Linked DNA regions of Homo sapiens. The protein of the gene in region 1 interacts with the protein of each later gene in a pairwise test. Each region holds a gene or a part of one and is shown on either strand. Other genes may lie near its edges.

What was found.
Region 2: the proteins of TXLNB (region 1) and BTF3L4 interact in binary tests that used the Homo sapiens proteins (3 or more experiments, as listed by UniProt).

Annotation. Positions count from the first base shown.
Region 1 is NC_000006.12:139,243,343-139,246,998, reverse strand, and holds part of TXLNB (beta-taxilin), read left to right. Parts: intron 1-2,308; coding exon 2,309-2,404; intron 2,405-3,656. UniProt on the Homo sapiens protein: Promotes motor nerve regeneration. May be involved in intracellular vesicle traffic.
Region 2 is NC_000001.11:52,059,295-52,062,950, reverse strand, and holds part of BTF3L4 (transcription factor BTF3 homolog 4), read right to left. Parts: intron 3,117-3,656; 5' UTR 3,104-3,116; coding exon 3,050-3,103; intron 1-3,049.

The DNA of each region.
Region 1 (3,656 bases):
TCAATTCTGGTGTGTTCTTGCTCATCAAGTGGTCTTACTCATCAATTCACTTAACTTCCTGAATCTAATTTTTTTTTTTTTTTTGAGATGGAATTTCGCTCTTGTTGCCCAGGCTGGAGTGCAATGGTGCGATCTTGGCTCACTGCAACCTCTGCCTTCCGGGTTCAAGCAATTCTCCTGCCTCAGCCTCCCGAGTAGCTGGGATTACAGGCATGCACCACCATGTCCGGTTAATTTTATATTTTTAGTAAAGACGGGGTTTCACCGTGTTGGTCAGGCTGGTCTCGAACTCCTGACCTCATGTGATCCACCCACCACGGCCTCTCAAAGTGCTGGGATTACAGGCATGAGCCACCATGCCTGGCCTCTAATTTTTTTTAATCTATGCAGATACTACTTTCCCTGCCTAACTCACAAGATTGTGAAGTTAAATTAATACATTTTGGAAGGGATTTTAACTTTTTACATGTATTTTTCAAATATAAGGTGCCAGTATTATAATTTAATGTAATGTTTAAAGCTTGTTCAGTGTCTTCCCAATACAAAATCAGCCATCAGAACTGTGTTTCCGAACAGGGATTGGCATTAATGGTTTTGAGGTGTAGAAAACATCCTCTTAAAATATATTTTTAAAATATTATGACAAATTTTACAATGAGCAACCTGAAGAAGATTGGCACTTGTTAAATGTTACAGTTCTCCCACTTCAGAATGGAACTATCCATTTGCTTAATTTTTTTTTGAAATTCTAGCATTTTAAGATTGGAATAAATTAGAACAGGAAAACATGTTTTTCAAAATTATGTAGTTTTAAGAGTGGAATAAATATTAAATCAGGAGTTCTTAATCTTGGGTCCATTTATGGACGTTAGTAGTTGACCTGAGAACTCTCTAGAAATTACCATAAAAAAAAATGATGCACATATGCACATTTTTGTGAAGTGTGGTCCCATAGCTTTCACCACATTCTTAAAAAGATTGATGACCTTAAAGTTTACAAACAACTGGCTGGGCGCAGTGGCTCATGCCTGCAATCCCAGCATTTTGGGAGGCTGAGGCGGGTGGATCACTTGAGGTCAGGAGCTCAAGACCGCCTGGCCAACATGGTGAAACACTGTTTCTACTGAAATACAAAAAAATTAGCCAGGAATGGTGGCAGGCGCCTGTAATCCCAGCTACTCAGGAGGCTGAGGCAGGAGAATCGCTTGAACTCGGGAGGCAGAGTTTGCAGTGAGCCGAGATCACGCCATTGCACTCCAGCCTGGGCAAAAGAGTGAAAAACAAACAACAACAAAAAAGAAGAAAACAAAGAAGTTTACAAACTACTAACTAATTTAAAATATGATCAAAATTAAAAACCTAGCTTGTCTGTAGAGCCAGGGGCTGACAGTCTTGGGCCCAGCCTCTGGCCTCCGTGGGTACCCAGCTTCAGGCAGCTTGGCACCAAGCAGCGAGTGCCCAGCTATGTTTCATCCAGGAAAACTGCACCTGAGTACATGCCTCGTTCTCCACTTCATCTAAGCAAAGAAGAGATCCTACAAACAAGAATGTGAGTAGCCTCAGGTTCGAAAAACACAGGCTGCATTTTATTCACTTCTTACTTCCTCGTACCCAGCCCAGGGCCTGGTGACCACCAGACATTCTATATGCTTCATTAAATGAAATAAAAGAATGGCAGCCCCACTGTTCTGTTAATTCACCTAAATATTACTCTACCTCTCCGAACTTCGGTTTCCCCATTTATAAAATGGGGGTGAAAATAGAACCTTCCTTGTGGGACTGTTTCAAGGATGAAACAAATAATGCATGTAATCACATTTTGTGAACTCTACCTCACTCTATAAATGTAAAGACCCAGAAAATACAGAGACTGCTTTTGTGCAGCAACTTCTCAGATGTGCCCAGATATTATCAACATTTTAATGGCTAAAAAGGCCATGCCAGCTTTCCCACTGTGATAGTCTTCTATTCAATACAGTAAATATCCTAAATTACAGGCTTGTTCATGGAACTCCATAAAGATATTCTTCTTTTAAATGAAAGAAAAAGCAGTGACAAAACCATGTGCCCCTAAGTCATTTCCCATTTCCTGAATTGGCTCAGGTGCAAATAAGTTTGCTTGCCACTGCCCTAGACGGCTCAGAAATAAATTATGACTCTGCTACAATCTTCATTCTTGACATTGAACATTTGTTTGCTTCAGCATCTGGTAACAAAAGGGCTTCTCCTGGTCTCACATATGGAGCTAATAGCTTCCTTGATATATTAACTTTTCAAGATTAACACACACTCACTCTAATTTCTGTAGACAACTAAGAAAATGAAGAAGCTGGAAAAGGACACAGCCACATGGAAAGCCCGATTTGAGAACTGTAACAAAGCTCTGTTGGACATGATTGAAGAGGTGAGGAAGTTTCTCCCTTAGCTTTAATCCCCTCTGTCTAGTCAAAACATTCAAACTTACGATACAATTATAACCTGGTAATAGTACAAATGGTTATGTGTGAAAAAGAGTTGAATTTGGGGTGGCAGGATGTGACATTTTAAATTGTAATAAGTATAATAAGAGCAAAGGTCATTTAGAATCAGGTCCAGACTCAGAAAGAGTTTTGTGACCCTAAGTCACATGCTTACCTGTTGATTCAATAGCTGTACCCAGGGCAGCTGTCCCCTTTAAGGGCTGTGAATTCCTTAAAGGTAGGATGAGTGTCTTATTTTACTTTAAATTTCCCCAGTGTCTGACACATAACAGGTGCTGAATAAATTAATTAGTTGATTTGAACATACTGCGAGAAGACACCAGCCCAAGAGTCCAGTGCATGTGCTATTTTCTAATATAAACAGATATGGAGATATCTTTTTAATTCCTCCAATAGACATTTAAACACTGATCTCATGCCAGGCTCCAAGTAGGTTTTGAGAGTCCAAAGGCAAAGATACATGGCCCCTGACCTGAGAGGTAGGGCTTACAGGTGAAGGTCTCTCCATGTATAACGAGTGGGGGAAAAAAGGTCTCAAAGGGACAGAGTAGCTCAGAGGTGAGGTGAAGGAGTGAGATAATTAGGAACATTTTCATGCACAAATAGACATTTCTAGAGGAAAAAACTGAACCGTTTGAGCAGCCAGCATCGTGAATTAGTATATGGTGAATTTCTATGGTTATAATTACTGCTCTAACAATTCTTCTCAAATTGCAACCAATTCCAAAGAGATATTACTCATCAACATAAATCAAATGGCTGCTGGGATTAGCACATAGCAGTTTATTCATAGAACAGATAAGGAAGGCATTGCTGAAACCCAAGTCCCAATCCATCTCATTTATCTTGCCGCAAGTCTTGCTTCTACCTTCTAAGTCTCAGAAGCAGAAAATTCATCCATAAGATTTGAGAGGCTATGGACCAAAGCAGAAGGAAGCCTGACCATCTTTCTTTCCCAATGAACAGGGTATGGTGATTAAAGAATCTACCAGTCTAGTACACAATGCCAAAAAAAAAAAAAAAAAAGGAAAGTGATGTCCATGACCAAGCATCTGTTCAGCCCCTACTCTGTAGCCAGGTCCCAGAGCCTAGTAGACAAATTCTGGGACAAATAGTTTTGCTTGTTTCCAGAAAGCATCCTGGACATTTTGCTTATCATGTCATTTCATCTGTGTG
Region 2 (3,656 bases), on another chromosome or scaffold:
AGGAGGGCGAACCGTTGTGAGCTGCGTATGCGAGGAAACTAGGATGCGCACTCCTCATGAGAATCTAACTAATGCCTGATGATCTAAGGTGGAACAGTTTTATCCCAAAACCATCATCCTCCCATCCGTGGAAAAACTGTCTTCCACGAAACCAGTCCCTGGTGCCAAAAAGATTGCGGACTGCTGCCTTAGACTCTAGCAATAGCGTCTCAATTGTTCGCCTATAGGCCAAACTTCCATTTTGTTCCATTTTCCACAACGCCAGCAGCTACCTTTCTAAAATGGCAGTCATTTCCTTCTTAAAATCCTTTAATAGTTGCCCACTGCCTATAGGATAAAACTCCAAGCTCCTTAGTATGGCATATAAAAGTATAATGGAATCCCAAACTACCTGGTCATTTCATTTCCTGCCATTCTCTATCCATTACGTACACTAAAGAACAGCTGTACCGGCCGAGCGCGGTGGCTCACACCTGTAATCCTAGCACTTTGGGAGGCTGAGGCGGGCAGATCATAAGGTCAGGAGTTTGAGACCAGCCTGACAAACATGGTGAAACCAAGTCTCTACTAAAAATACAAAAATTAGCCAGGCGTGGTGGCGCGTGCCTGTAATCCCAGCTACTCAGGAGGCTGAGGCAGGAGAATCGCTTGAACCCAGGAGGTGGAGGTTGCAGTGAGCCGAGATCACGCCACTGCACTCCAGCCTGGGTGACAGAGTGAGACTCCGTCTCAAAAAAAAAAAAAAAAAAAAAAGGCCGAGGCGGGCGATCACGAGGTCAGGAGATCAAGCAAGACCATCCTGGCTAACATGGTGAAACTCTGTGTCTACTGAAAAAAATACAAAAAATTAGCCGGGCATGCTGGCGGGTGCCTATAGTCCCAGATACTTGGGAGGCTGAGGCAGGAGAATGACATGAACCTGGGAGGCGGAGATTGCAGTGAGCTGAGATTGCGCCACTGCACTACAGCCTGGGCGACAGAGAGAGATTCCATCTTAAAAAAAAAAAGAGGCCGGGCACGGTGGCTCACGCCTGTAATCCCAGCACTTTGGGAGGCCGAGATGGGCAGATCACCTGAGGTCAGGAGTTCAAGATCATCCTGACCAACATGAAGAAACTCCATCTCTACTAAAAATACAAAAATTCAGCTGGGCATGGTGGCATATGCCTGTAATCCCAGCTACTCAGGAGACTGAGGCAGGAGAATTGCCTGAATCCAGGAGGCGGAGGTTGCAGTGAGCTGAGATCGTGCCATTGAACTCCAGCCTGGGCAACAAGACCAAAACTCCGTCTCAAAAAAAAAAAAAAAAAAAAAAGAATAGCTGTACCATATTAAAGCAAGCCATTCCATTAAGTACTGTGTTATCTTAGCACCATATGTGCCTTTGCAAGTATGGAAATGACAACCCTTTTTACTCTATCTCATGAACCCTCTTACCTATTTCTTTTTTTTTTTTTTTTTTTGAGACGGAGTCTTGCTCTGTTGCCCAGGCTGGAGTGCAGTGGTGCAATCTTGGCTCACCGCAACTTCCACCTCCCGGGTTCAAGTGATTCTCCTGCCTCAGCCTCCCAAGTAGCTGGGACTACACGTATGCGCCACCACACCAGGCTATTTTTGTACTTTTAGTGGAGACAGGGTTTCACCATGTTGGCTAGGCTGGTCTTGAACTCCTGACCTCAACTGATCCACCCACCTCAGCCTCCCGAAGTGCTGGGATTACAGGCGTGAGCCACCACCCATTACCTTTCTGCCAGCCATTACCTTTTCGCCTAGTGATAAATTGTTTATCCTTTAAACAAGAGCTCAGTGATAACTTCCTTGTCTCCACTAGGCAAGAGTACCTTGTACTTCATTATAACACTCACTATTCTGCGTTATAATTGTGAGCATCTCTCTCCCAAGCAGAGCTGTGATCTTGTTTATCTTCTATGTGCTGGCACACAGTAGGTGCTCAATATACAACAGCTAAATCGAATGTACCAACCACAGTTTTAAAATACACAATGGCGATGTGGTACATCAAGCTCTTCTAGGTATATTCTATGGTTCTTGAATATCCCTAGTTTCTGCATTGGCACATCACATCACACTTGATGCTACAATGTGACTACTGTGGTTACATGAGTGTGTTATTCTAACTCCAGACTCATATAACTGTATCACTGTGGGAGAAGGAGAAAGTACTGGCTCTTCTTCCCTTCCCTTCCCTTGTGCTCATCCCCAGGAACTGTGGTTATCATCAGTGTAAATGACACAGTGGGACCCACTACAAAAAGTAGTGTCCTACCTACCACTTCAGGTCTGAGGTAAGTACTATTCTTTCTTTCACTTTTGCAAAGATTGTGTTGGGCAGAGATATGGGTAGAATATTCTCCTTGAGCCTGGTGCCACAGCTGAAGAGAATCAAAGACTTCAGTTGCTCACAACTAGTTCTTCCTTAGGCTTTAAAAAGTACAGGGAATAAGAAAGCTGATATTCATATTCACCAACATGGAAGAACAGGTAAGAATTTGTGAGGAAAACCTGGCAATGAACAAAATATATAATCAACTTAAGCATCTCCAGCTAAACCTCTGTACAAGTAGGTAACATCCAGTCAAGACAAAGTAACCCTAACATCTGGTATGCCCTGCAAGTGAGTCTAACCATAATAATAGCTATAATTTATTAAGCATCTACTCTGTGCTAGACACCACATTAGGTGTTTTATAAATATTACCCTAATCTTTAAACACCTTATGTAGGATTATTTCTATTTTGCAGATAAGAAAGTGGAAGCTTAACAAGGTTGGATAACTTGTTCACATCATATAACTAGCAGATGGTAAGAGTTAGGATTCAAACAAATGTGGCTATTTCCATTGCATCATCAGAGAGAAAAGTGTTCTAGTTACCTATTTTAGATCTAGACAAGTTATTTTCAAATTGGAATGTGGTTTGATCTTGATTATTGAAAAGATTTTAGATTTTCAATGACCACAAATCCGAAATAATAACACTATCTGGTAATCATACATTCTCCTATCAATTTTTCTTATGCCACACTCACCTTGCCCCCTATCCGGACCTGAGCCTGAAGTTTGGCTAACTTTTCTTGATTCATGCTGTTGGTAAATCTAGGGGGGGAAAAATAGATTTGTTAAAGTCACTCTTTTGCCGAAATTAACAAACTGTTTATGCAACAGTACCTTCTGGTTCACTGAGCTTGTAGTATGCATCAACACCATGACCATATTAATACTGTCTATATTCTTAATAAACATTAATAACTTGTTCTAGCTTCATAAACCAGATATTTTTAAAAATCAAAATTAAATTACCATGAGGGAATCAAATATACAAACAGAAAGTAGAATGGGATTCAAAGTCACCTATTCAAAGATCCCTCCTTAAAACATGATTCAATCCTTTGGCATTCAGTTAAGCCTAACCAATTATGAAATCTCTGTAGGCAAGCCAGTTTTTTTCCCCCAAAGATTTTTACAGCAGAGAGCTGTTACCAAATGTTATTAGCAAAATCTTCAAGTAGATTTTTTTCCTCCCAAATCACATTCTGTATTTCTTATAAACCATAAAGATGACAAAAGGAAAAAAAAGCTGAACAAAGAAGAAATTCAACAAAAGGCTGTCTAGCTGTCAAGATATCAAGTAGTCAT